Homo sapiens: one gene and its partners. The protein of the gene in region 3 purifies or fractionates together with the protein of the main gene of each other region. This does not show direct contact. Each region holds a gene or a part of one and is shown on either strand. Other genes may lie near its edges. The genes, in order: TAOK2, DDI2 and ZDHHC1.

The links.
Region 1: the proteins of ZDHHC1 (region 3) and TAOK2 purify together in Homo sapiens (affinity purification with mass spectrometry; 2 studies listed by BioGRID and IntAct, with this or other methods). This does not show direct contact.
Region 2: the proteins of ZDHHC1 (region 3) and DDI2 purify together in Homo sapiens (affinity purification with mass spectrometry; 2 studies listed by BioGRID and IntAct, with this or other methods). This does not show direct contact.

What each region holds. Positions count from the first base shown.
Region 1 is NC_000016.10:29,967,750-29,977,918, forward strand, and holds the start of TAOK2 (serine/threonine-protein kinase TAO2), read left to right. Parts: upstream 1-6,118; 5' UTR 6,119-6,247; coding exon of another isoform or gene 6,248-6,886; 5' UTR 6,887-6,899; intron 6,900-9,988; 5' UTR 9,989-10,023; coding exon 10,024-10,155; intron 10,156-10,169. Other genes in the region: TMEM219 (insulin-like growth factor-binding protein 3 receptor isoform 1 precursor), read left to right, coding at 276-505, 3,659-3,796; uncharacterized protein LOC124903762, read left to right, coding at 5,873-6,031, 6,248-6,886. UniProt on the Homo sapiens protein: Serine/threonine-protein kinase involved in different processes such as membrane blebbing and apoptotic bodies formation DNA damage response and MAPK14/p38 MAPK stress-activated MAPK cascade.
Region 2 is NC_000001.11:15,619,251-15,629,068, forward strand, and holds part of DDI2 (protein DDI1 homolog 2), read left to right. Parts: intron 1-7,418; coding exon 7,419-7,548; intron 7,549-9,818. UniProt on the Homo sapiens protein: Aspartic protease that mediates the cleavage of NFE2L1/NRF1 at 'Leu-104', thereby promoting release of NFE2L1/NRF1 from the endoplasmic reticulum membrane.
Region 3 is NC_000016.10:67,406,372-67,416,189, forward strand, and holds part of ZDHHC1 (palmitoyltransferase ZDHHC1), read right to left. Parts: 5' UTR 9,800-9,818; intron 9,773-9,799; exon of another isoform or gene 9,532-9,772; intron 3,508-9,531; exon of another isoform or gene 1,443-3,507; 5' UTR 1,405-1,442; coding exon 1,396-1,404; intron 72-1,395; coding exon 1-71. UniProt on the Homo sapiens protein: Palmitoyltransferase that catalyzes the addition of palmitate onto various protein substrates, such as NCDN and NLRP3. Has a palmitoyltransferase activity toward NCDN and regulates NCDN association with endosome membranes through this palmitoylation.

The DNA of each region.
Region 1 (10,169 bases), about 37 Mb from region 3:
ACCCCGTCTCTACTAAAAATACAAAAAATTAGCTGGGCCTGGTGGTGGGCACCTGTAGTCCCAGCTACTCGGGAGACTGAGGCAGGAGAATGGTGTGAACCCGGGAGGCGGAGCTTGCAGTGAGCCGAGATTGCGCCACTGCACTCCAGCCTGGGTGATAGAGCGAGACTCCGCCTCAAAAAAAAAAAAAGAAAATACAAGAAAAGAAGCGTGAAGACAGAGGCTCCCGCGTCACCTCTCATTTTCTTCCATTTTCTCTTCTGTGCCTTTCACAGGATCTTCTGCAGGACAACTGGTCCTTATCACAGCCAGGGTGACCACAGAAAGGACTGCAGGAACCTGCCTATATTTTAGTGCTGTTCCAGGAATCCTACCCTCCAGCCAGCCACCCATATCCTGCTCAGAGGAGGGGGCTGGAAATGCCACCCTGAGCCCTAGAATGGGTGAGGAATGTGTTAGTGTCTGGAGCCATGAAGGCCTTGTGCTGACCAAGCTGCTCACCTCGGTAAGAGCCTCAGATGGGTCGCCAGGGTTTTGTAGACTGCCTGCTGACTACTGTATCTTGAAGGTCCCTGGAAACAATTCTACCTTGTAGAAAAAGCACAGGTTTTATAACCCTGCCTTGGGGGCTGTGTGACGTAGAACAAGTGTCTAAACATCTCTGAGTGTCAGCATCCTCATCTGTAAAACAGAAAACATGACCCTATCTCTTAATTCCATCAAATAAGGATTAAATGAGAATGACCGTGAAGTGCCCAGCACATTGCCTGGGACATAGAGATTTGATAAGTGACAGCTATTGTTGTTTACTATTGTCTTTAAAACATTCTCTCTACTTCAAAGGAGTTCAGAAGCTATAATAAGAGGCAAATGGGCTAATTGCTATTAGAGAGATGTGAGCAAAGTGTTATGCAAACACAGAGAAAGGAGCCATTAACCCTAACTTGAACATTTATGGAGAGTGCATCACAGAGAAGGTGGCATTTACCAGAGAGCATTGTGCACAGTGGTTTATAATGCACAAAGTGCTCTCAGGGTTCATTAATTCATTTGATCTTAAAATAGCCTTTTGAGGTAGGTGTTATTATCCCATTTTACAGATGAGGAAACAGGTTTAGAGAAAGGGAGTGAATTGCTGCAGGCCACACAACTGGTTAAGTGGCAGAGCCAGGGTTGCAACCCACACCTTCTGTCAAGTCAGAATGATCCTTGAAGAATGAGGAAGATTTGGACAGGGACTGCAGTAGAGGAGGTTCAGGAGAGGGGGAGGTACACTCCAGGCAAAGGCACCAGCATGCGCACAGGCCTAGAGATTGAAAAGTGTTCAGCCAGGTGTCACATCTGTAATCCCAGCACTTTGGAAGGCCGAAGCAAGGAGAATGCCTGAGGCCAGGAGTTCCAGACCAGCCTGGAGAACATAGCAAGACCTCGTTTCTTTTTCGCTTTTTTTTTTTTTTTTTTTTTTGAGACGGAGTCTCACTCTGTTACCCAGGCTGGGGTGCAGTGGCACAATCTCGGCTCACTGCAAGCTCCACCTCACAGGTTCATGCCATTCTCCTGCCTCAGGCTCCCGAGTAGCTGGGACTACAGGCGCCTGCCACCATGCCCGGCTAATTTTTGTATTTTTAGTAGAGACAGGGTTTCACCTTGTTAGCCAGGATGATCTCAATCTCCTGACCTCGTGATCCACCCACCTCAGCCTCCCAAAGTGCTGGGATTACAGGTGTGAGCCACTGCGCCTGGCGACCCCATTTCTTAAAAAAAACATTTTTTTTTTTAATTAGCAGGGTGTGGTGGTACACACCTATAGTCCCAGCTACTCAGGAGGCTGAGGTGGGAGGATCCTTTGATCCCAGGAGTTTGAGGCTGCAGTGAGCCATGATTGTGCCACTGCACTCCAGCCTGGTTGCCAGAGTGAGACCCTGTCTCAAGAAGGAAAAAAAAAGAAAGTGTTCAGCCTTTGGGAGCACTCCATGTTGAGAGGCTTAGGAAGGAGAAAAGGCAAGAGAGACCACAGGGATTTGATGGAGAGGCTCTGTGAATGCAGGATAGAGGGCTATGACCTGATGCTGAAGGCCGTGGGGGCCACTGAGGAGTTTTAAGGAGGAGAGAGATGTGCTTCCCTGGTGCTGGGTGGAGAATGGCTGAGTGGAGGAGGGCCATCAGTCAGGAGGCTGCTGCACACTCCACTCTCACATTTGAAAATACCCCATGAGGCACGGTGGCTCACGCCTGTAATCCCAGCACTTTGGGAGGCCAAGGCCGGTGGATCACTTGAGGTCAGGACCAGCCTGGCCAACATGGTGAAACCCCATCTCTACTAAAAATTTAAAAATTAGCTGGATGTTGTGGCGGGCGTCTGTGATCCCAGCTACTCAGGAGGCTGAGGCAGGAGAATCTCTGGAACCTGGGAGGCAGAGGTTGTAGTGAGCTGAGATCATGCCACTGCACTCCAGCCTGGGCAACAGAGTGAGACTCCGTCTCAAATAAAGAAAAAAAGAAAAGACCCCATGAGGAGCACAACCTGGGACTTGGAATCAGAGATCTGGTTTCCAGATCTAGCACTGCTTGCACTTTTTTTTTTTTTTTTTTTGAGATGGAGTCTTGCTCTATCGCCCAGGCGGGAGTGCAGTGGCGCAATCTCAGCTTACTGCAAGCTCCGCCTCCCAGGTTCACGCCATTCTCCTGCCTCAGCCTCCCAAGTAGCTGGGACTACAGGCGCCCGCCACCATGCCCGGCTAAGTTTTTGTATTTTTAGTAGAGATGGGGTTTCACTGTGTTAGCCAGGATGGTCTCAATCTCCTGACCTCGTGATCCACCCACCTCGGCCTCTCAAAGTGCTGGGATTACAGGTGTGAGCCACCGCACCCAGCCACTTATACATCTTTAAACTGTGGATCATAATGAAGTTTCCTATCTCATGGAGTTATGATGGGGTTTCAGGTTGATAATTGGGCAAGAAAGTAGTTTTTAAACCATCAAGACAAATGTTCGAGCCTGGGCAACATGGTGAAACCCCATCTCTACAAAAAAACACACAAAAAATTAGCTGGGCGTGGTGGCACACACCTGTGGTCCCAGCTACTCAGGAGGCTGAGGTGGGAAGATCGCTGGAGCCCAGGAGGCGGAGGTTGCAGTGAGCCGAGATTGCACTACTGCACTCCAGCCTGAGTTACAGAGTGAGACCCTGCCTCAAAAAGAAAAAAAAAAAAAAGGGCCAGGCGCGGTGTTTCACGCCTGTAATCCCAGCACTTTGGGAGGCCGAGGTGGGCGGATCATGAGGTCAGGAGATCAAGACCATCCTGGCTAACACGGTGAAACCCCGTCTCTACTAAAAATACAAAAAATGAGCCAGGCGTGGTGGCGGGCACCTGTAGTCCCAGCTACTTGGGAGGCTGAGGCAGGAGAATGGCGTGAACCCAGGAGGCGGAGCTTGCAGTGAGCTGAGATCGCGCCACTGCACTCTAGCCTGGGCGACAGAGCAAGACTCCATCTCAAAAAAAAAAAAAAAAGACAAATGTCAGCTTATATGAAAATAACATTTTCCCTTCAGTTGCTCCCTAGATGTGGAGAGCCCTCTCCCTCATGGAGGCTCCTTCTATAGCCCTTGGACTGGATTAACATGTCCTCCTCCTCCTCTCCCTGTACCCCTCCCTAGGAGGAGCTGGCTCTGTGTGGCTCCAGGCTGCTGGTCTTGGGCTCCTTCCTGCTTCTCTTCTGTGGCCTTCTCTGCTGTGTCACTGCTATGTGCTTCCACCCGCGCCGGGAGTCCCACTGGTCTAGAACCCGGCTCTGAGGGCACTGGCCTAGTTCCCGACTTGTTTCTCAGGTGAGGTTCTTTGCTCCAGTCCTGCGGGAGCAGGGAATGGGGTGGGGGTGGGGGTTGTAACCGGGGTAGAGCAGATCCTTGGACTTTTCCTCAAAGACTGCTGCTTCTGAGTCCCCGAGAACCTCTTCAACCACAGCTCTCCCTTAGGGACTGGGAACAATTTGACACCGTCAGCATTCAATATTTTTCTAATTACTTTAACTTTTTTATTATAAAATAGTTAACACTTATGTAGAAAAGTCCAATAGTATAAAAGGACAGCTTGGCAAATTATTATAAAGTGGATACTTATAAATACCACTGAGTAGAATATTACCAGCTGTCCAGAAACCCCCCATGGTCCCTTCCTTCCTGACAATGCCCTCTCTCTCCCTAGAAATTACTGTCCTGCTTTATAATGTATTGCCATGTATGTATTCCTAAATAATATAGTTTGGTTTTACTTATTTTTGAAACTATGTAGACAGAATCATACACATTCTTTTGTGGCTGACTTCTTTCAAGCAACATTGTGATTTTAAGACTCATAACTAGTTCACATCCAAGCATTTGGGTAACAATGGTGAGTTAAGAGGGTTCACATTTGATGATTTGTCCTGAATATGAACCATGTTTGTCTTGCTTTTGTCCTGAAATTCCAATACCCAGTTTTATGATGGAAATTTTGTAAAATTCAACTTGAACCGCTCAGAAGAGTCTAACTGATGATACTCATTTACTGGGGACATAGTATGTGCCCAAGAACTTGACATGCACCTTCTGTCTTCCATTTAGTCATCGTTACCTTTAGAAAAAGCTGATTCCGTTAACAAGATCTTTGGAGGGAATCAGCTTCACAAACGTAGCAGTGGGTGGGGGTCATGTTGGTTAACCAGTTCACACATCAGCTCACTAAAGGAAAAAATATTTCTGCAAAAAATCTTCACTTGTCAGAGGGGGGTGCATGAAATTTGAGAGCCATGTGTTATGCATCCAGCTCTTGAACTGGTCTCAGCTTCAGCTGGCTGCAGTGCCCTAGGAAGTTACTATGGGAAAAGTGGAAATAGTTGAGGCCCAGGGAACTGATCAGGCCAGAGGAAGTGGAAGCTCAAGATCAACTGTGCTTATTTTGCTGATGGCTGGGCCTAAATGCCCCAACCACCTACTTGGGACAGGAAATGACAGGACCCTCTCAACCTTGGACTGGGAAAGGAGGGCTTCCTGGCCCCTGACAGACCCTGGGGTCCTGAGGCTACCTTAGTTGGGATTAAATGCCCGTATTGGTCTCTAGCTGTCACTCCCTCTGCTCCTTCCTCAATTTCTGCACACATCTCAGAGCTTCCTCTAGCAGCTCTTCGACCTGTTTTGTTGTTTTATTTTCTTTCTCCCCAGGTGTGAATCAACTTCTTGGGCCTTGGCTCTGAGTTGGAAAAGGTTTTAGAAAAAGTGAAGAGCTGGAATGTGGGGGAAAATAAAAAGCTTTTTTGCCCAGTGGCGTGTATGGTGTTTATTGGGGGTTGGATTGAGGTGGGGATTTTAGGGTAGGCAGGCTTAGAAGTTTTGGGGGACTCTTTCCTGTTGACTCTCTAGTTTGGACACAGGTTGGCATAGGGCATAGGTTACTTGAGCTCTCCCCATGGTTGACTTGGCTTTGGTAAACACCTGTCTTGTTTTCTTCTACGAAATAAAATGGATAATTACAGTTAGTTGGGCGGGTGGGGTGTCAGGTCATGGAAATGCTGTGACATAAATGCACTGTGACCTTGGCAAGTCTTGCAACCTGCAGCGCCTCAATTTCCGTAAGAGATTTGACCGATTGAGTTTTCCCAGCGTCGACGCGCAAAGATTCCTCGCACTTGGAGGCCCTTTTCCAGGTTAGATGGTTGCTAACCTCGGAGCAGTCTATTTTCCCGCCTTTTCCGCGCCCAGCAGCAGCTTCCTTTGCCCCTCCCAACTTCCACCCTGCGCGCAGTCGCAGATCGCCGCTGCTGTCCGTCCACCCGCGCCCCCTCAAAGCTTCCCCTAGCAACAAGCTCGGGCTCAGAGCGAAGGCGGGGCGAGCGCATGCGCTGCAGCTCTGTCCACCGCCAGTCGTGGGACAGAGTGCCGGGCTCCTCCCCTTGCAAGTCTAGCTCTTCTCCCCGCCTCCTCCGGCCTGGGGTCCGCGTGGCGGGGCGGGCGCGCACTCGGGCTTGGCGGCTGCCGGTCTCCCAGGCCGCGGCAGTGAGGAGAGAGGGCGGGGCTGAGTCCTCTGCGCCCCCGCCCCCTTTAGCCCGGCGTCCCTACCGCGCCTGCGCGCTCCCGCCCGGTCTCCATCTTGGAATTGGGAGGAAGAGGGAGAGGGAGACCGGGACGAGACCGGGGCTGTGGTGCGGAGAGAGGCTGAGACGGAGAAGAGGAGAGGCAGAGAGGGCGCGGGGACCGTCAGCAGCACCTTAGCTACAATCGTTCAGCTATTCTCGGAAGAGAGAAGGGAGAGGGAGGAGGCCGGGGCGGGAGTGGGGGCTGTCACCCTCGGACCCCGGCGTGAGAGGGGCCGTGCGGCCGGACGTCCTCGGGGTGGGCCCCCAGTCGGTGGCCGAAGACCTACAGCTCAGGCCCCTGGGTCCCAAATTTCCAGGCTTTGCCCCTCCTCCTTTCTCAGATACCCGGGTAACAGTCCTCATAGTCCAGATATCCGGGACTCGGGTCCCAACCTCTCTAAACCTGGGTCTCTGTTTCATAGAATTTCAAATATCAGGTTCAGGCCCCTGCGTGCACCAGTATCCGGGGTTCATTCCCCGGGCGTTCAAATATCGGATTCAGTCTCCATCCCGTTCAGATATTCGGGGTTCAGACCCCACAATCAGAAATCCGGAATTCGGCAGCTGTCGCCCTCGACGAGGGGGAGGACTGGACCGCGAGGTCAGATTAGGTTGTCACCCCCTCCCCTCCAGGGGAGGCTTCCCGGGCCCGCCCCTCAGGAAGGGCGAAAGCCGAGGAAGAGGTGGCAAGGGGAAAGGTCTCCTTGCCCCTCTCCCTGCTTGGCAGAGCCGCTGGAGGACCCCAGGCGGAAGCGGAGGCGCTGGGGCACCATAGTGACCCCTACCAGGTGAGACACGGGGTGCAGGGGCGCGGGTCCCTGTGTCTAGTTCTGAGAAGAAAGGGTGCGCCTTTCTGAGAAGCTGGACTTGGGTAGGCCCTCTCAGGATGGGGAAGCCCAGCTGAGCGAGTGGTCAGCCTCTGGCTAGCCTTGCCTTCTGTTGCCACCCCCTTCCCCTTCCTCTTCCCTTCATTGTGTCTGGTTGGTGGGGGACCTCAGGTGACAGGGTCTCTGATGTCACCGGCGTTCACACCCTAGGGTGCTTCAGCTAATCAGATGGATTTGCACTTCAGTCTTCTCTCCTTCACTTTGCCCCTCACAGCCACCTCTCCTCCCTGATATGTCCCGTTCTCCTGGCTATTCTGTGGTTTTGATTCCCATGCCTCTGATTCCCATGGTGGGTCTGCTTATCTGCTTTTCAGGCCTGGTCTGGTTGGATTTCTTGTCCTTGCAAGGAAGTGTGTGTATATGTGTTTGTGTGTATGCGTGTGTGTGTGTGCTTGGAGGTGCCTGGCAATGTTTTCCCCCAGCTGCAGTTACCTTCCAACCTCTTGCTGTGATGGTGTCAATAATCTCATCCATTTGTCAAACGATCTGTCTTTTACAAAGTGCTTTGACAGCCATTCTCTCATGTGACATCCCCGCATTCACCCTGTGGGGGCCTCTTTTATTGGCATCTTCCCATTTTACAGTTGAGAACGTTGAGGCCGAGAGAGGTTGCCCAAGGTCACACAGTGGCAGAACCAGAATTTGAACTCAAGTCCTCAATCACATCTTTCCCTGATGCATGCCTGGTTCTTGCCATCTCTTTTCCTCTGAGTTTGGGCTCGGCCAGGGGTCCCTAGGAGTCCAGGCTGGGGTGAGGTTTAAGAATGGGGATGAGATGAGCTTCCTTTCCAGGAGGGCTCTACTCAGAAGCTTTTCCTGATGGGAGCCTCTGGCTTTTGCCTCTGCCTCATGGAGTTTTCTATCCACTGTGACCTTCATCTTTACCCCAATCCCAGGGTTTGGCCTGGATTCCTGAGAGGGCTCTCTCCTGACAAATGGTAGCACTAGTGGCATCTTTTAACTGTTCAAGCCAAGCTGTTGGGGTAGAATGATCCCCCAAAGGATTAAAGCTTTGTGGGGACCTTGGAGGCAGGGAAGGAAAAATCCATATGCTGAGTGTCTGCATGGTGTTCCTAAGTATGAGATCTCATTAAAATCTTAACAACAGCTCCATGCTGTAATCCATTTCACTGAAGAGAAGACCAAGAACTGGAAGGAACTTATTTAAAGCCCTGTTGCTGTACATTGCAGACGGGATGTACTGGTAGCATAGCTTAGGAACAGATAGATACGGGTTTCCTCATCTGTAGAATGGAGATAACATTGTTCGTTTTGGAAGGTGGTTATGATTTAGCACAGACCTTGGTTATTGTTCAAGTGTTTGTTGTTATTATGGGGAAGGGGACCTGCATGATGTTTTGCCAGTGGGTGGCACCCCTCCGTGTGGCCTAGGTTAGCATTCTGGGGCCTTGTGTTGGTAAAGAGGTCAGGAAGATTCCTTTGGCAAGTTGAGAGCACCTGCCTTTGTGTGTGGGTGTGTGGTGCTGGTGAGGGGTGCTTGGCACTGTTGCTGGCAGAAGGGAGAAAAGGGCCGGCTTTGAGCAACCTGCGAGCTGCTGAGGGCTGAGCAGAGAGCAATCACTCAGTCTCCCAGGCTATTCTGAGCCCTCTGCACCCTGGGGGCCCACTGGAGAGTCAGGCTCCCTCCTTGCCCTCCAGCTTCCAGTTGGGCTGAGACAAAATTAACAACACAACAGGAAACAATGCATGACAGAATAAATTACATGCTAAAATTGTTAGGTGCTTTTGAGTAGCTAGAACTCTGCCCCAGGAGTCCAGCTCTGCTGAAGGCTCCTTTGTGCCTAAATTCTGACAAGTGCTTAGGCTGGAGCCTGTCTTGGAATCTCCTTGAGGGTTTTGGTTCTGGTATCCTGCAGGAACTTTCTCCGGGTGTTTGGTTGGGTGCCCTAGGTGCTCTTCCCAATGGCTGGAGTGGTCAGGACAGGCTTCCTGCAAGAGGGGAGCTGAGCTTGGGGTGACAGCTGAGAGAGTAATGGATACAGGCCTAACCGGGGAGCCGAAGGTCCTGTTCTCTGACCTTGGAGAAGTCCTTTTTCTTCTCTGTGCCTCAGTGACCTCACCTAGGAAATGGTGATCATGATTCTGCCCTGCCTGTTTCGAAGGGCTGCTCTGAAATCATAGTGATGGAGGACCAGCTTTGGACAAGGCACTTAACCTTGCTGAGCCTGTTTCTTTATCTGTAAGATAGGGGAAATCATAGTACTTGCTTCATAAGGTTGTAGTGAGGACTGAATAGAGATAATGCACGTAAGGTACTCAGTAAATGTTATTTGTACCCTGCAAATGTCCTGTACCTGTGTGTGATGCTTATGCAGTTGGACAGGACAAGTAAGGTGGCCCAGAGCACAGAGAGGCCCTCATAGCCAGATGCCATTTATATCCCTATTCTTCCCATTCTAGATCTCCCCCTGACTTTTTTGAGAGTGACTTTGCGGGCTCCTCTGGGCCAGTACCCACTTCTAACAATGGACGGATTTCCACCGCCTCCGGCCTGGCCATTTCCTGTTCTCTTCCAGGGTGTGAGAGGTTGAGGGAGGAGGGGGCCTCAGCGCCAAGGGGAACAGAAAGGTGCCTGGAAACAGTTGGGGTATAGGACTTATGGGACAGGACACTTGGGGCTCTGGAGTGCTGGCTGGGAAGCAGAATGTTTTATCCTTGAGGGGAGATACAGGGGCTATAGGGAAATGAGAACTTGTTGAGCACTGAAGGGGGTGGTGAGGATACTTAGCTTCCCAGAATCTTCCTAGCAGTTTTAGGGACTCCAGGGACCCAGCCCGCGTGATCTGGTTGCCAGGGCAACTTCATTTTTTGGAGCTTTGATGTTGTTCCTAATCTCCCCCTCCCCTTCCTCAGCAGTGCCTCCTCCTCATCAGGGAATGAGGGGAGGAGATGGCAGAAACTTGATGGGTCCCTTCCTCTCCCTGAAGGCTCAATCCTTGATCTCTAAGGGTCCCATTTCCATTCCTCAGGCCAGGCCCCACTCTCAGGGCCCCCAGGGGCCACCATGCCAGCTGGGGGCCGGGCCGGGAGCCTGAAGGACCCAGATGTGGCTGAGCTCTTCTTCAAGGATGACCCAGAAAAGCTCTTCTCTGACCTCCGGGAAATTGGCCATGGCAGCTTTGGAGCCGTATACTTTGTGAGTTGGGTCTT
Region 2 (9,818 bases), on a different chromosome or scaffold from region 3:
ACTGGGACTACGGGCGCGCGCCACCACGCCTGGCTAATTTTTGTAATTTTTTTTTAGTAGAGACGGGGTTTCACCATGTTGACCAGGCTGATTTCAAACTCCTGACCTCTAGTGATCTGCCCGCCTCGGCCTCCCAAAATGCTGCGATTACAGGTGTGAGCCACCGTTCCCGGACAACTCTTCAATTTTTGATAGTGGCTTTTTCTTTTCTTTTCTTTTCTTTTTTTTTTTTCGAGACGGAGTCTCTGTCGCCTAGGCTGGAGTGCAGTGGCGCGATCTCGGCTTACTGCAAGCTCCACCTCCCGGGTTCGTGCCATTCTCCTGCCTCAGCCTCCCGAGTAGCTGGGACTACAGGCGCCCACCACCGCGCCCGACTCATTTTTTGTATTTTTAGTAGAGAAGGGGTTTCACCATGTTAGCCAGGATGGTCTCGATCTCCTGACCTCGTGGTCTGCCCGCCTCGGCCTTCCAAAGTGCTGTGAGCCACCGCACCCGGCCCGATAGTGGCTTTTTCAATTGTTTTTTCCTCTAGCTGTTATATTACCCTGGTTATGATCACCGGCTGGTAGGGAAAATAAGAAATTAAAATGTAAATTGATTTTGTTGTTAGGGCTTGGGAAAAGACAGAGGTTGAGGTTGTTTCCATTCCTGCACTTTTTGTGATGGCTGAAACAAGAAATTTAAGTCAAAGGGATACCTGACACCCCCTTTAATTGACTTAAATTTCTTGTTACAGCCATCATAAAAGACGATTTATTGTGTGGTCAGCCAGACATTGCCCTCTGCCAGTTGGTAAAGTTAGGAATACCTTAGTAATTGAACATAGGCTAACTCCAAATTATTTCTTGTTCATTATGTCAATGTTTCGGCATTTACTTCCTTCCCAAGCCAAATTAGCATATAGAAACTTGGGCTCCAACTGGTGTTAAGCCTGTATTAGATAGCCATAAACAGCTCCTGTTTTTCCAGTCTGTTCTGTTGGCTCCATTGTAACCTGACAACACAGTATCTATTTTAAGGTGTCTGGTGGTCGGTTGTCTTTCACTTGCTTGCTTGCCCATCAGGCAGGAACAGGATCCACCCTAGACACTTGAGTCATTTCCTTTCATCAAATCATAATAGTAAACATCACTATAGTTTTTACCCATAAATATATCATGTTTACTTACTTGAGTGTCCCCCCCCATTACCTCCCAGGGTTCTCTCATATTACTCATCTTCCCTTCCTTTCCTAGACTGTTTAACTCCTCCTCTTGTTTACATTCTCCATTCCCATTCCTTCACCTCTCATTTCTGATTCCATTTCTTCAAGGAAATATATATATTTTTATGTTCTGGCTATTTTTTCCTGCCACTATGTGTCCACACCACTGGTGTCCAAACTTTCATTCATGTATCCCTATCAGTAAAATGTTTCAGATTATGCTTCTGTTATGTATATAATACATTATATACATGAACTGATACGTTGTATACATTATATATGGCCACATGTGCATATAATACACATAACGTGCATTATATGCATATATAATATGTTATCTGTAAAGTAACATTGTACACACACAAAATGGAGCTTAAGGAAGGACGAACTAAAATAAATGGAAATGAAAATTCTAATATTTTCAGTTTCTTCCTCCACCGTTAAAGAATTGTCTTGCATGGCTGCCCTACATTGGTGATCAATGGTTTAGAATTCAGTCTTTCACCTGAGTGTCAATTGCACATAAGCATATAGTTGGAAAAGGTGTTAATTTTTAACAGCTCTAGTCTGATGATAGTAGTTACAATGCAGTGATAACAAATTTAGAACAAGCCATCTCTGCTTGTACATGTGATTAAAGCTGGGCATGTTCTGTCTCTTAATAGAAGTGTGGGCTTGGAAGCCAGTCATGGCTCTGTTTGATGCTTTGATGCAGACTTGCCTGGGTGAACTTCAAACAGTTATCAGAACTTAGCTTCACTTTAAATTAATGTCTTCATATTTTTGAGACATGATAATTTACCTCTGTAGGTGGCATATGGAAAAAGTAGGCACAACATACAAGGACCCTCAAATGAAAGGCAAATAATAGCAGTAATTGTATGATCTTGGAAATGCACACAGCATGATTTGTGGTTTGTAAACCACTATTTTATCTTCTGTGTGTTTGTTTTTTTGAGACAGGGTCTTGCTCTGTCACCTAGGCAGTAGTGCGCTCACAGGTCACTGTAGCCTCAACCTCCTGGGCTCAAGTGATCCTTCCACCTCAGCCTCCTAAGTAGCTGGGACTACAGGTGTATGCTACGACATATGACTAATTTTTTTGTTTTCTTTGGAGATGGGGGTTTCACTGTGTTGGCCACGCTGGTCTCAAACTCCTGACCTCGGATGATCTGCCTGCCTTGGCCTCCCAGAGTGCTGGGATTACAGGCGTGAGCCACCGCATCCGGCCCCAAATTGATAATTTTAAAGGCTACATAATATACCATCATATAGATGTGTTGTAATTTAGCAATTTCCCTTTTGTTGAGCATAATATTGGGGAAAATTGGAAGCAGTTGTAAGTAACATGCCATGAACATCCATATACTTAAGACTGTAGCCTCCATTTCTGTTTTCTCAGGATGAATTCTTAGATATGCAGTTGCCAGATCAAAAGCATAAAGTCTTTGAAAGGTTTTTAGTAAATTTAGATTATACAAGTCAAATTGGCTATTACATGGGGTAGTATATGTAGATAACTTGGTAGATATTGGGTATTTGATTAATGGTAATACTATTATGAAGCCATTCAGATGTAATTCCAAATGTTTTGTGGCCGGTTTATGGTCCTTATTTTATCTTTATTCTTTATATTTTAGAGATGGGATCTCGCTCTCGCCCAGGCTGGAATGCAGTGTTGCAATCACAGCTCACTGTATCCTCAACATGTTGGGGTCAAGGGATCCTCCCAAGTAGCTGCGACTTTTTTTTTTTTTTTTTGAGACGAGGTCTTGCCAGTGCTAGGCTTGAACTCCTAACCTCAAGCAGTTCTCCTGCCTCTGCCTCCCAGAGTGTTGGGATTACATGTGTGAGCCACTGCACCTGGCCTACTAGTTTATGTTCTGTAATGCTAGAAATTTATTGTTAAGCTTTTTGTTAATAGAAGGCTCTCATTCAGAGACCAGAAAACACCTGACCTCATGCTTAAAAGTTCTGAAGTTTTATTAATTAGTCTATTGTTAAATGTTGATTAAGATTATAATTCAGTCTCTGGGGTGCCTCCTCTGGAGTAAGTACCAGCAGTTGTGCCAGTTTTGCTGATTAAGACTCATAGCTGTATACATTTTCTTGTTGTATGTTCTTATAACTGGCAAAACTTGAATTTTGGGCTTTGTAGCTGTTGAGTTGGGTAACATGAATGGTGGAAGGATCAAGAATGCCGGCAGCGGATCCCCTTTTGTTTTTATTGGTAGAGATTTGAAGCCATGTCTAATAGATACTGAATGTTTGGTTGGAAGATCACATGGATTTATTTTGGGACTTTTGCTGCAAAATAATTGTCTTTCTTGGACTCTTAAGCCTATTTAAACAAAAAGAAATCAGTTCTTTGTGGCAATTACAATTTTAGCTAAGCTTTAGTTGATCTCATTTATGTCCTTAGATTAAAATGGAGCACAGCTGCTGCTTCGTCAGTGTGAGGAACGTGTGCGCCTCACCCAGGTTCTTCAGTCTAGTGTTTCCAGGAAATTGGCGCTGAAGCAACATTTCATATTTCATAGACATGCTCAATGTGGTGGTTATCTAGATTTTACATTTTTATTGTTAGATCATGCTGCCTTCCTTTAAAAAATGCTATTGTCTGCTGAGGAAATATTGTGGCAACTAAGCAGTGATGGAGTGAAGTATGGCATCTGTGAAGTGGGAGTCAGAGCGGGCAGTTGGTGGTGTTTCTTCATGTCCAGGGCATGGGGATGCGTTGAGCAGTGGACAGTATTTTGATCCTCTTAGTGGATAGAGTCTCTTAGTGGCAATGGATGGCTTAGTAGTACTTGTTAAAATCACCCAGCTAATTCACCAGGCCACTTTAGGGTTATGTTCGGGAAAGCTGTATATGATACTCCTGGAGTAATGGGCTTTGAAATTAGACAGTTCCAATTGCAGTTTTCTTCTTCTTTTTTTTTTTTTTTTTTTTTTAAGAGACAAGATCTTATTCTGTTGCCCAGGCTGGAGTGCAGTGGTACAATCATAACTCACTGCAACCTCGAACTCCTGGGCTCAGGTGATCCTCCAGCTTCAGTCTCCCAAATAGTTGAGACTACAGGCATATGCTACCATGCCTGGCTTATTATTATTATTATTATTATTATTTTAGAGATGGGGTCTTGCTGTATTGCCCAGGCTGGCTTTGCATTCCTGGCCTCAAATGATCTTCCTACCTCATCCTCCCAAAGTTTTGGAATTAAGGCGTGAGCCATGGCACCCAGCCTGCATAGGATCATTTTGATTCTCCTGAGTTTGCTTCCTCCTTGTAAATAAATAAATTTTCTCTTATAAATAGTTAGTGGCCGGGCGCAGTGACTCACGTCTGTAATCCCAGCACTTTAGGAGGCCAAGGCGGGCAGATCACAAGGTTAGGAGATCGAGACCATCCTGGCTAACATGGTGAAACCCCGTCTCTACAAAAAATACAAAAAAAAAATTAGCCGCTTGTGGGGGCAGGTGCCTGTAGTCCCAGCTACTCAGGAGGCTGAAGCAGGAGAACCTGGGAGGCGGAGCTTACAGTGAGCCGAGATCCCGCCACTGCACCCCAGCCTGGGCGAGAGCGAGACTCCGTCTCAAAATAAATAAATAAATAAATACCGTTAAAATGTGCCTCTGCTCCCAGGAGACTGTTCATGTATCTCTAAATATACTGATAGTTGAATTTCTGAAACTGGAAAATTAAAGAGTAGGTTGTTGACAGTGGCTTCACAGTGTTGATGCTATGCTGTAAGAGCCTGCCTACCTGCCATTTCTCTTGACATACCTCTTTTTTCTTGTTGCACACCTCAACCTGTGACGCTCATCACTTCTGGTTTATGTGTTTTTTCCAAGCAGTCTCACAAGTTATAATATGACTCTCAGTTGTTTTGCTGAAATTCTGTGTTGATGGTGATGTACTTTTACTGTGAAATTTGTGTTTAAATGAGGGTGTGTGAATGGGATGATGGGAGTGACAGTTGCAGTCTGTTGAAATGTGGTTCTTTTTTTGTTTGTTTTTGTTTTTTAAGAGACAGGGTCTTACTCTGTTGCCCCAGGCTGGAGTGCAGTGGTGCAACCGCAGCTCACTACAGCCTGGACCTCCTGGGCTCAAGCAATCCTCCTGCCTCAGACTCCTAAGTAGCTGAGACTACAGTCACATGCTACCATGGCTGGCTATTTAAAATTTTTTTTTTTTAGATATGCGGTCTCACTATGTTGCCCAGGCTGGTCTCAAACTCCAGGGCTTAACCCATTTGTGCTTAGCCTTCCAATGGAACGCTAAGCTTGTGGGAGTTATATCCTACTACTCAAGGTCATTGCCAAGGTATGATTTTTTCACAAAAGAAAATTTGCAACCTCTGGCCTAAATGGGTTAAGTGATGCTCACACCTCAGCCTCCCCAAGTGCTAGGATTATAGGCATGAGCCATCATACCAGATCTGAAATGTGTTTTAACTCAGCGAGTTGAGCATTAAGGACTTAATAGTATTTTTTTTCAAGTCATGCATAAAACTTGTATAATTGGGCCTACAAATTTGCTCATATTCAGAAGAATTTGATTTTGGTAGGAACTCATTTTCCTGTTCTGTTCCTCATGTCTATAAATTCTGAGAGCAGATATGGCATAATCACTTTTTTTCCAGTTTAAATGCTGTGTTTTCAGTTTTTATTTCAGGTAACCTTACTATGAAAGCTGTAAGGAAACATAGAATGATAATGTTAGCAGAGAGAACTGGAAGGGACAGCTGTAATGATGATCTAGCCCACCTGCTTGCTTGACACATGGGAAGGGTGAGGTCTGGACCTGCTGAGTGTCATGCCCCTCGCAGGGAGTTACTGGCAAGGATAGAACTCATGTTCCTCAGTTCGCATGTGGCCTGGTGAAAAATCATTAGGAGGAAAACCTTTCAAAGCCTGAGTTTGTTCTGAATGCCTTTCTGGAGTATGTAATAATGCAGGGCAGATTTTATGTTTTTTCATGATAAAATTATAGTGTACCTTTGTTCTTTCTATCTGCAACACATTATTTCATCTATTTGTGCTGTCAGGTTTTTTTCAGTTTGATTACACATCATAAAATATTTTTATTAGTAGTACATTCCTAATTCTTTTTTCCACTTGTATTTAGTTGTTATTTTCTTAGTTTCACTTTATTTTCCAGTCTCCCCCCTCCCACCACCCCACCAAGATGGAATCTTGCTTGCCCAGGCTAGGGTGCAGTGGTGCGATCTCAGCCCTGCAACCTTTGCCTCCCGGGTTTAAGCAATTCTCCTGCCACAGCCTCTGGAGTAGCTGGGATTACAGGCACGTGCCACGACACTGGGCTAATTTTTGTATTTTTAGTAGAGACGGAGTTTCACCATGTTGGCCAGGCTGGTCTCGAACCCCTGACCTCGTGATCCACCCGCCTTGGCCTCCCAAAGTGCTGGAATTACAGGCGTGAGCCAGCGTGCCCGGCCCAGAGTGATAAAACTTTGGGGGTGGTAGAAGAGAAGGAAGATTGCAGTGCAGGAAGGATGATATTTGGGACCCTTTTGCCAGTGTTCAAGATTATTTCAAAGTGCACACTTTATTTAATAGTACTGTAGTTAGTTAGCATACCCAGAATAAATCATTCCCTTTTCCTCCCTGCTAAAAATTAAATCTAAAATTATATCCATTTCCATAAATTCATTCATTCTTTAGTTCAACAAATATTTGAGCATCAGTTATATAACAGGCCCTGTTCTAAGCATTTATGATCTCGTGAATGAAACAAAGTCTTTGTCCTCAAGTAGTTTACATTTAATGGGGCAGAAGGACAATAAGTAAATATATATTGTGTTAGTTGAGAGTACATTTTAAATAACATAGTAGGGAAGAACTCTAAAGAGTAATGTTTGATCAGAGACGTAAAAGGAAAAAAATGAGTGGAAAAAGAACATTCCTCAGGTAGAGAAAACAAGAGAAACAGCCCTGAAGGGGAAGTTGATCCCTGTTGTTTGAGGAACAGCAGTCATAGTGAAAGGCGAAGTCAGGAGAGCCAGGGACCACATTGTTTGGTCCTGCTAGGTGACGGGAAGGACTGTGGGTTTTGTTCTGGATGTGGTGGGAATCCACTGGAGGGTTTGAAAGGAGGGTGACATCTGATTCAGGGGAAAACTGGTCCTTCTGCCTTGCGCTGTGTTACTTCTCAGTGCTTTATACTGTTGTATATCTTTTCTTGTTGTAGATCGTCTATGCGGAAAGACCTCTCACAGACAACCACAGATCATTGGCTTCTTATGGCTTGAAAGATGGGGACGTTGTGATTTTACGACAGAAGGAGAATGCAGACCCTCGACCTCCAGTGCAGTTCCCAAGTAAGACATCTGGTGGTTGAGCATCCCCCAGCAGAACCATCAGCAGGTAGCAGAGCATAGCACCTCAGAGTTTTGGATTCGCTTTGGATTCAGACTACAGAATACAGATCCTGACTCTGCCTTTTCCCTGCCGTGTAACCTTGAACAAGTATTTTAATGTCTCTAAATTGGTTTCCTCTTCTATAAGTTAGGTGCCATAATTAACCCCAACTCCTAAAGCTGACGTGAGGCTAATGCATGTAAAATCTTAGCACACAGCAAGCCCTCAATAAATGTTAGCTTCTGTTATCAGTGATAATTATACAATAATCTTTATCCTTGGGAAGGACTTGAAAGAATACATAAGCCTATGATTTTGCTACTTTGTGTCTGTCCTTCAGTGGCCAGCCTTTCTGGAGCATTTTATAGCCAGCCAGGCACTTGGAGCTGCATTTCACATGATCTCATAACTTGGTTGTGGGGGGATTTACATACTAATTTGCATAATAATTTATAATTATGAAGCTCAGATTTTAAATGGTGTCTTTAAAGTTACATAGCTATTAAGTGAGGGCACAGGAATTAAAATTTGATGCTTTTTCCATTATGCTGAACTTGATAAACATTAAGCAGCTTGACCACCAAGTTGTGGTTCTTTCCTACCAGCTGTGTTAATCACATACAAAGAAACGTTTATCTATCTTTGATGCTGCTTTTATAATAGATGTTTATAGTCTGAACTCTGTGCATTGGGATTTAGTAGGTTCTATGTCACTGAAATAATATGCAGAATTGTGTGGATGTGAATGTGTGTGTGCACTGGATAGAGAGAGGGTCATAGCTTTGTTCAGATACTTGAAGTGGCTCATGATCCACAAAATGATTATAAGGTCTTAATGTGAAACAGCTTGGTGAAATGTGTGGTTTTTTTCCATTCGCTGCCATATTCAGATAGATTTTCTTAAATAGTGTTTAGCCTGTAGGTCACCAGTTTTAAAGTTTATGGTGACAGATGCTGGCAGAGTCTGGGTGATGACAGACTGACTGCAGTTTTAACCACAGTGTTTCCATTCAGCCTGAAACTGGAACTTACTGAGACCATCAAGGACCGGCTCCACCAGATCTGGAAGACATTAGTCCCTTGGGGCCACAGTTAAACTTTAGAAAGAAGTTAAAACTTCTTTCTGAAGAAGTTAAACGTATTTAAACAACTATGACAATCAGTAAAAACCACATCTTCCTTTGGTTAATTTGATGAGATTATTAATTCCGGAATTTACTTCTTTTTTTTTTTCCTCTGCATTGTTGTTTATGGACAAGAGAGCCTGTAACAGGTTGGGGCAGGAGTGATCTGGTCTATTAAGTAAACATGTTTTTGAGAATTATTCTGAAGTGAATGGACTCTCAAGATAATGTATAACAGGAGTGGAGATAAAATTTCTTGACCTGCAAAGAGGGCCCACCCATATATGTTTTTCTGGCTGGTATAGATTAACTACCTCACAGAGATCATCCTCTTCACTTCACCATTTCCTTGGTTGGGAGTTGAAGAAAGTGGCTAGTTGAACCCCTGCTAAAGGGTAGAAATGTTACATCATGAGTTTAAGCATTCTCTTTTTCTATCTGAGGTCCAAAAAGGCTTCAGGATAGTCCCAGACTTGAGACAAGTTTGTTTGTTTTTTGATTTTTTAGTTTATTTAAAATCCTTAATAGTGCAAGGATTGTGCTATAATTCTGATCACTGTGGAATTGCTTAGTGTACTGTCATTTATAACATTAAGCACAGTTATCCTTAAGAAAAGTATTCAGTTGTTCAGACAAGTTTGACCATCAACTATATTTTTTGGAGTTGAAGGAATGTCGATTGACTCAGGCCTAGCCCCTCATTCTGGCTCTCCTTGTTTACTTTTCTCTTTTTCATTTTTCTTTTTTAAATAACAGTTTTATTGAGATAGAATTCATGCATTTAAATGATTTTTTTTTACTATATTCATGAGTTGTGTAACCATCACCACAATCCATTTTAGCGTATTTTCATTACCTTAAAAAGAAATCCTATACCCATTTATAGTCATTTCCCATTTCCCCCTAGTCTCCGCAGCCTAGACAACTACAAGTCTACTTTCTGTCTCTATGTATTTACCTATTTGGAACATTTCATATAAATGGGGTCATACAATATGTGAGTCCGTTGTGTAAGGATTAAAATTCCCTTTTATCTTCCTTTCATTTTAGTAAGGTCAGTTCCACCTGGCATATAGAACCTGGGAGTTGTAGCTTCTAAACTGTGG
Region 3 (9,818 bases):
GGCTGTGCCGGTGCCGTCCACACACTCTTCTCAGGGGCCGTCTTGTTGGAGGGCTTGTTGCAGATGTTCATCTCCAGAGGGAGAAACAGTAGAGAGAGCATTAGCCCAAGAAGCTGGGCTGGAGCCCAGGGCCTGTGTCTGCAGCCAAGTTTCAGCACAGGGGGAGTAGGCTGCGACAGCTACTCTGCTGGGGAAACTGGGGTCCTAGCACAATAGAGATGGGCAGTGGGGAGAGGGTGGGAGTGGGCTGCTGTCTCAAAGCCCAAAGCAAACCCTGGCCCTAGACTGGCCAGGACAAGGTAGGAGGGCCCAGGATTTATTCAGGACACAGTGCTGCTGCCTGTAACTCAAAGTGCTGTCTTCACAGCCATCACAGTTAAACCCAATAAGACATGTTCTCATCTGGTAACAATATCAGGCTGGGGCCAGAGTGATGAGAACACATGCTGATTCTGTTAGGATTAGTCACCTCCTTCCTGAGGTCCAAATGCAAGTGTCAGACACCCCCGCTATCCTTTGCTCAGGGAAACGGGGAATGGGGTGCCCAGAAGGAGGATCTGCCCTCTCCCCCACGGTGGACAGAAAATCCCTTTAGGACTGGGGGAGTCTGAAGCTCTGCCCCATGCTGCCTGAGGGTTCTCAGCTGGGGAGGGGCCAGCACATGTGAGGAAGGGAAGGATTCCTCTTTAGTTCCCTTCAGCAGCAGAAATGACCACGTTTCTCTAAGTAAATCTGGGCCTGGTGTACAGTTTTGTACAGAAAGGTGGGCTAACGCCCTTGGACTCAGAGCCAGACCACCAGATGGCATCAACCACCCCCTCCACCCGCCACCCTCTAGCCGGACAGCTGGCCCAGGGTCCAGGGATGAATGCCAGGCAAGAAGGGGTAGGCTACAGGAGGAAGACCCCCATCCCCAGGATATGGGCCCAAGATGGGACAACAGCTCAGGCAGGCAGCGCCACACCTGGGAGACAGGCCAGCTCTGCGCTCATGGTGGGAAGGCCAGGAGCTGGGACTAAAACCCTGGTAGCTGAACTCTCCTTTCAGGAGCCCCTGCCCATGAGACAGGGAACCTAAGCAGAAAGGGTGCCGCAGACCCCGACTCAGTGCATCTTCCTGGATCACCTTTCTCACTTCTCAATCCACAGAATGAGGCTTGATCTTCAGAGCCAACTGCAAGGGTTGCCTCATCCAGGAAGCTTTCCCTGATGCCCTGAGTCAGGGGGCCCTTATGCTAAGTCATTGTTGGGCAAATTACTTTGCCATTTGGGACGCTTTGCAATCCTCATGTCTGCCCTCATTAGGACAACTTTCCCCAAAGGCAGCAAATGTGCTGGGTGGGGTTTATTCATCTCTGTCCCCTATGTCCCTTCCCCCAGGCACCCAAAATTGTACCTTGTACATAGTAGATCCTCAGTAAATGTTTGCTGACTTGAAAACAGCTGAAATAAAAGGAAACGTGGGCACAGTAAATGGTGTGGAATCCTGGTCCACCCTAAGCCATCTGGCCTGCTTTCTCCTGCCTTCCATCCATCCAGCCCTGCCCTCTTTCTGCAGGGTCGTGAACCCATGCCTCCCGCAGCCCATCTCCCTCTGCCGGCTGGCTACCACCCTGACTGCCAGACACTCACTCCTAGCCACCCTGCCCTTCAGCCCACCTGAGGCTCAGAGCCTCCTGCAGGCCAAGCCAAGCATTATTTGAAGTGACCTCTGAGTTGTCCCATCTCAAAGCTAAATGGAGGACTTAGTTTTCCCCCAGGGATTCAACTGGTGGTATTTGGGTTTTGGGTTTAGGGTTTTTTTTTTTCTTCTGAGACAGGATCTTGCTCTGTTGCCCAGGCTGGAGTGCAGTGGCACCATCACAGCTCACTGTAACCTTGACCTCCTGGGCTCAAGTGATCCTCCCACCTCAGCCTCCAGAGTAGCTGGAAGTACAGGCACGCACCACCACACCTGGCTACTTTATTTTATTTTTTTGTAAAGACAGGGTCCCACTATGTTGCCCAGGGTGGTCTCCAACTCCTGGACTCCAGACTCAAGAGATCCGCCAGCCTTGGCCTCCCAAAGTGCTGGGATTAGAGGCGTGAGCCACCGTGCCCGGCCTTGCTTTGTTTTGTTTTGTTTTTTGTTTTTGAAACAGGGTCTTGCGCTGTCACCCAGGCTGGAGTGCCGTGGCGCAATGATAGCTCACTGAAGCTTCAATCTCCTGGGCTCAAGTGATCCTCCTGCCTCAGCCTCCTGAGTAGCTAGAAATACAGCGGCGTGTTGCCATGCCTAGCTATTTATTTTTTATTTTTGCAGAGACAGTCCCACTATGTTGCCCAGGCTGGTCTCCAACTCCTGGGCTCAAGCGATCTTCCCACTTTATCCTCCCAAAGCACTGAGATTACATGCATGACCCACTATCCCAGCCCTCACTTTCTTTTGCATGTCCCCAAAGATAGCAAATCTTTGTCCTTGTATTGTGGAATTGTCAAAGGTCATCAGGTCAAGCCCTGTGAATATGATTGGGTTGGATGGTTCTGCTCTGGGGCCAATCTCTGTGGCTTGCACATCAGCTCCCCAGTGACACCATCACCAGGGCAATTACTTTGAAAGGAATCCATTAATTTGGATTCCTAAATTCTGGCTCTCCTTTTGCCATCCCCAAACCTGAACAACCCTACACCTTGCAGGAGTTTCCAAAGAGCAAAACAGACGCATGCAGCTGATCTGGCCCCACTGCCTGGCAGTGGCCACAGGCACCCCCAGAGCTGCTGTATCCCTGACTCCTGAGGCAGGAGGAGTCACCATCTGCAGCCAGGCGCCCGCCACTTACAGCCTTGGGGATGGCTCTGACTCCAAATCAGGATACCCCCTGATACTCCAAATCAGGATACCCGCTGATACTCCAAATCAGGATACCCCCTGATACTCCAAATCAGGATACCCCCTGATACTCCAAATCAGGATACTCCCTGATACTCCAAATCGGATACCCCCTGATACTCCAAATCAGGATACCCCCGATACTCCAAATCAGGCCCAGGAAGGGAGCACTTGTCTGAGGCTGTGGATGTGGGGATGGTGCTGCCAGGCAGACCTCCCTCAGCAGAGGCAGCATTCTGGTATAGACGCCCAGGCTGGCCCAGAGGCATGCCCAGGCCAGCCCACTCTTCACTGACGACATTTTCTCCTGCAGAGTTGGTGGCTACAAATTCCTTCGGCCCAAAAGATTTTGATTAAAAGGGCTGGGAGGTCGGAGAGAATCCAAGATGGGGCTCCCAGGCCCATGGATGGGACCAAGCACTGTCACCAGACCCCGGGACTTCTCTGGCTGTTGCTCCCCTCTCAGCACTTCTCTAGGAGACCAGATTGAAAGACATGTGGCTCTGTTCTCCAACGACGTAGCCAGCTGGCACCCTCTGACCTTGGCCAGTCAGCACTTATCGGAGCCCAGCCTGCGCACTTAGGATGTAAACACAGATGAGACCGGGTGCCTGCCCTCAGGGGCTTCTCTTCTGGGACCTGGACGGACACGAACAGATACCAGGGCAGTGGGTGAATGGGCATTTTGGCAGCCCATGCAAGGGCCAGCCATCCAATGTGGCAGAACACAGGGTGGACAGGTGGCGGGGGTGGGGGGTGGGGGAAGGAGGGAATGGAGAGCAGGACCCAGTGAGAGATGGGACTGAAGGAGTTGCGGGGCTCAGATCACAGGGGTCTAGGAGGCCAGGTGAGGACACATGGGCACTGCTGGAAGAGCCACATGGAGGCAAAGCAGGCTGAAGGCATGAGAGTGACCCAATGGCTCAGGGTGCTTTGGAAAACTTTCTAGCCAGTGGGGAGGAGGGCATGGGGGAAGCGGCACCACAGTGGCCCAGCAGGGAGCCCAGCAGCCCTGTGCTTTGGGAGAAACTTGTCAGAAGGTGGCGGTGAAGCCCACAAGCTCCTTGCTGCCCACCTGGCTACCTCCAGCTGCATCTTTGCAAGGCTCAGAGGTACACAGCCTTGGGAAAACATTCTTCATGTACCTTCTACTGCCACAGAACAAACCATAGAGAGTCAGGCTGGCCGGGATAAAGGGAAGACAGGAAGGAGGGTGTCCCGTGGCCTGGGTAAGCCAAGGACCCACCTGGCTTCTGAGGCAGGCAGGAGGGGCTGTGGAGGCCCCTCCCTTATCCCCCACAAGGTGAAAGCCATTGGCAGGATGACAGTAATCTGTTCACATTAACATTCACTTGCTAAAAGCCTTAGATGGTGTTTTCAATATAAGGTTAGGCTACCTTAATTAATTATTATTATTATTATTATTATTATTATTGTTATTATTTAGACTGAGTCTCACTCTGTCGCTCAGGCTGGAGTACAGTGGTATGAGCTCAGCTCACTGCAACCTCCACCTCCCAGGTTCAAGCGATTCTCCTGCCTCAGCCTCCCAAGTAGCCGGGATTACAGGCATGCACCACCACGTCCAGCTAATTTTTATGTTTTTAGTAGAGACGGGGTTTCACCATGTTGGCCAGGATGGTCTCAAGAACTCCTGACCTCAGATGACCCACTCAGCTCGGCCTCCCAAAGTGCTAGGATTACAGGCATGAGCCACCACGCCCTGCCTGCGTACCTTAATTTATATGCTTAAGTCAAATGAAGGAAATCTTAACATTTTAAGTTCTCATTACGAACTACATTATAGTTACATGAGTGACCCACTTTCCTCCTGCCCACCTCTGCTCCCAACAAAAAAAAAACCATTTAGGAATGTTGTTCTGAAATTCATGCCTAGCACTCTCAAAGGAACCACACCAAGGTGAAAAGTACCAGCCCTGGAGAGACTGCGGGCATCCCTGGATTCCTGCAAGCTACCTGAGGGCTTCAGAATCAAGTTAATTACTAAAGAGGGTTTGCCAGGAGAGGACAAGGAACTGGGAGGGCAGGGTGATGGGGTCAGAGGAGAAAGCGACGGGGTTGAAGCAGGTGCTTGGAGGGCCCTGCACTGCCAATGGGGAGACGCAGGTGGGATCAAAGGAAGAGGGCTGAGCCTGGAGTAGAGCCCTTTTCTGGTTCCCGAGCTGCCACTCACAGACTGAGGAACATTGGGGCAAATTTCACAGATCCACTTCTTTGGATCTCTTCTGTACTCATCTTTCAACAAAGTTCAGTGAAGCAATTTGGCAATATCCAAGTCTGGCGAAACTTTAGAACATATATGCCCTTTGACCCAGACATTCCATTTCTAGGTATTTATCTTATACATATACTCACAAAGATTTACTGCAGCATTGTTTGCAATAATAAAGGACAAAAGACAATACAAATAAACTATGGCACATCCATACAATAAAATGCTAGGCAGCATCAAAAGCAAGGGATAAAAAAAGAAAAAAAAGGGATGAAGTAATCTTTGATACACAATTAAGTGAAAAAGCAAGATGAAGAACACTTGTAGATGGCGCTACCAAGTGAATGAAAACAAAGGGGGCCGGGCGCGGTGGCTCACGCCTGTAATCCCCACACTTTGGGAGGTCGAGGAGGGCAGATCACTTGAGGTCAGGAGTTCGTGACCAGCCTGGTCAACCTGGTGAAACCCCATCTCTACTAAAAGTACAAAAATTAGCTGGGCGTGGTGGTGCGGGCCTGTAGACCCAGCTACTCGGGAGGCTGAGGCAGGAGAATTGCTTGAACCCGGGAGGCAGAGGTTGCAGTGAGCCGAGATCGTGCCACTGCGCTCCAGCCTGGGCAACAGGCGAGACTCTGTCTCAAAAAAAAAAACAAAAAAAGGCTGCGGGGATGGATAGATATCTACATTCCTATACGCACAGATTTTCTCCAGAATGAAATGCAAGAAACCAAACACAGGAGCATCCCCTAGGAATGAGACCTAGTGGTCCAAGAGCTGTAAGACAGAAATTGCATTTCCTGGTACTCCTTCAAACTGTTCAAATATATATATATTTTTATCATGAGCATGTACTGCTTTTGAAAAAAAAAAAGTATGTCTAATAATAAATGATTAGGGGATGTCACCTCCTGCCTTCCTGGCCCCACTGAGCTGCCTTGTGGATGAAACACACTCGTGTGATCTAGAGCCCTGTTATCATGCCAGACAAAGAATTCCTGCCTAACAAGGGGGCTTGGTTTTAGTGAAATGTTTTCTCACTCTTGAAAGCAATTCTAAGACGCTTGGCTGCAGAGCTATGAGGAAAAGCCACAGAACTTCCTATGAACTGTTAGGGATCTTGTCAAAGCTGGAATCACACAACCAGACAGCACAACAGAGGAGCTGCTAGGCAGGACCTGCTTCATCCTTGGCCACAGCCAACTCAGCTACCTGAGACTCCCAGAACCCGAAGGGAAAGTGCACTCCACAGGAAACTTTTGTTCCCATGCATCTTGTCCTTTTGCTAGAGGACTTGTGGTTTCCATGTGAGAGATTTTCTTCTCTTTTCTTTCACTTTTTTTTTTTTAAGACGGAGTTTCACTCTTGTTGCTCAGGCTGGAGTGCAGTGGTGCGATCTTGGCTCACTGCAGCCTCTGCCTCCTGGGTTCAAGTGATTCTCCTGCCTCAGCCTCCCGAGTAGCTGGGATTACAGGTGCCCGCCGCCACGCCCGGCTACTTTTTGAATTTTTTTAATAGAGACGGGGTTTCACCATGTTGGCCAGGCTGGTCTCGAACTCCTGACCTCAGGTGATCCACCCGCCTCGGCCTCCTAGCCACTGCACCCAGCCTATTTTTTTTTTTTTTAAGAGACAGGATCCTGCTTTGTTGCCTAAGCTGGAGTGCAGTGGTGCAATCATCGTTCACTGTAACCTCAAACTCATGGGTTTATGCAAGCCTCCCACCTTGGCCTCCCAAAGCGCTGGGATTACAGGTGTAAACAACCGTGCCCAGTCGGGAGATTTTCTATCTATGAGTATTCCTAAATGAACTTTCCGTTTCCCCCAGGATCTGCTTTTGAAATAATTTTCACTGAGATTTAACAGATGCCCAGTTGAACTACCTAAAGGGAAGCTAGAAAGAAAACACTTCACGGTACACAGATTTTTACACTGCAAAAAGTCATTTACAAAAGATTCTTTAGGGACAAGTACTTTGTTTATTAAAATTCCCCACAGGTGCCAGAGAAGTCTCTGGCCTTAAAATTCTGAGAAGCAGCTCTAGCTCAACTAACGGATGCGCATCACACAACTACCAAAAATTAAACTGGAACTTCAAGCTGTTCCCAAAGACCTCTCAAGTCACTGATCTCAGATGTGGCTGGGCCCTTGCTTTCTCTCTCATAAACAACAGGTGGAAGTCTGATGCTGGTTGGACCCAGTGGCTCATGCCTGTAATCCCAGAACTTTGGGAAGCCGAGGCGGGCAGATCACCTGAGGTCAGGAATTCGAGACCAGCCTGGCCAACATGGTGAAACCCGTCTCTACTAAAAATACAAAAATTAGCCAGGCATGGACGTGGGTGCCTGTAATCCCAGCTACTCTGGAGGCTGAGGCAGAAGAATCTCTTGAACCCAGGAGGTGGAGTTTGCAGTGAGCCGGGATCATGCCATTGCACTCCAGACTGGGCAACAGAGCGAGACTCCGTCTCAAAAAAAAAAAAAAAAAAAAAAAGTCTGATGCTATGGCAAGAAAAGCTTGAAACTCCAATTATTCCTGAGTTGACATGGTTTGCAAACATTTTCTGTGCCATTCTCCTCCTGAAGCAACCACTGCAAATTGTTTGGGATACAAATGAAGCCAAGGAAAGGGGACAAGTAGGAGGGAGTAACACAGAATAGAAACAAGGCCAGTGAAGAGAGGCCAAGGTTATTGACTTTAACCAGGAAATCAACTCATGACTGCAGGAGCCAGCCTTGGGGAACACCCACCACACAAGAGTCATTAAAAACAACGTTGTGACAGAACAAAGAAAGAAAAACAAAAACAAAACAAAACAATCTGGCTAATTAAGCACCACTGTTGCTTTTACTGCATCTCATGGTGATTATCTGTTTACAAACCCGTCTCCCACAGTGAACCACCAGTTCCACAAAAGCAGAGACCACCCCTCACCCGTGTCTGAACCCAGCTCTCTTTCAGTAAAGGAAGTCAAGCCACTTTTTTACCATCTCTGCTGTCATTACCCCAATCCAAACCTCCAGCATCGCTCTCCTACAGTGTTTGCATGATAATAACCAACACCAGCATTTAGAATGCACTTATTCTGTGCCAGGCACTGTTTCAGTGGAATTCACTCATTCAATCCTCATAGAGCTCTAAGGAAGGTCCTATCATTTCCAACTGTTCTTGTAGATCCCTGTAGTCACTGATTTCAGATGTGACTGGCCTCTCACTTCCTCATAAAAAACATACAGAACACCCACTCCCATCATGAGGACACTGAGGCTCAGAGACACTAAATGAGTTATTTTAGGAGGCACAGCTAGATTGGCAGAACTAGGATGGCCCTCAACTGACTTCCCGGTATGTCTGTCACAACCATGCTGCTCAGCAGCCAGAGTGAAGTGAGCTTTTCAAACGTGAAACTCATCCAAACTCTTCTTTGGGAGGCCAAGGTGGCTGGATCACCTGAGGTCAGGAGTTCAAGACCAGCCTGGCCAACATGTTGAAACCCCGTTTCTACTAAAAATACAAAAATTAGCTGGGTGTGGTGGCAGGCGCCTGTAATCCCAGACTTGGGGGGCTGAGGCAGGAGAATCGCTTGAACCCGGGAGGTGGAGGTTGCAGTGAGCCGAGATTGTGCCATTGCAGTCCAGCCTGGGTGACAGAGCGAGACTCCATCTGGAAAATAAAAATAAAAATAAACAAAAAATAAAAAACTCTTCTGCCGCTTGCAGTGGCTCACACCTGTAATCCCAGCACTTTGGGAGGCTGAGGCAAGAGGATCCCTTGAGACCAGGAGCTCGAGACCAGCCTGGGCAAAATAGTAAGACCTCATCTCTACCAAAACCTTAAAAAATTAGCTGAGCGTGGTGGCGGGTATCTGTAGTCTCAGCTACTTGGGAGGCTGAGGCGGGAGGATCGCTTGAGCCCGGGAGCCGGAGCCTGCGGTGACCCATGTTCACACCACAGCACTCCAGCCTGGGTGACAAAGGGAGACCTTGTCTCAAAAAAATAAAAAATTGGCTGGGAACGGTGGCTCACACCTGTAATCCCAACGCTTTCGGAGGCCGAGGCGGGTGGATCACCTGAGGTCAGGAGTTCGAGAACAGCCTGGCCAACATGGTGAAACCCCGTCCCTACTAAAAATATAAAACTTAGCCGGGCGTGGCGGCGGGCGCCTGTAATCCCAGCTACTCCAGAGGCTGAGGCAGCAGAATGGCTTGAACCCGGGAGGCGGAGGTTGCAATGACCCGAGTCGTGCCACTGCGCTCCATCCAGCCTGGGTGACAAGAGCGAAACTCCGTCTCAAAGAAAAAACTAAAACTCTTCCCATGGTTTCCTTTTAAAACAGACCCTCCATGACCAACCCCTCCATTTCAATACCAGAGAGCCTAACCCGACCTGAAATCACTTTAGTCATGTATGACATCCGCTTCCCAGCCCCCTTCCTTAATGCTCTGGGTTCTGGAGACAGACCACGTCTGTTGGGAGTCCTCTGTGCCCACGCCTGGCACAGAGCCTGGCAAAGAGTAAGCGCTCAAGGAAGATCTGTGAACTTGATGCATGCTAAAAGGAAGCCCCGCGCTCTGCCGGGGCCCTGGAACTCAGGCCACCGGCTCCAGGCGGAAGCGAGCCCAAAGCCGGCCAGGCGGCAGCATCCGCTACCCCGTGGCTCAAGCCAGGCTCCGAGGTGAGAAACCGGGCGGGGACTCCTCACCTGCGCGCCGCGGAGGCCG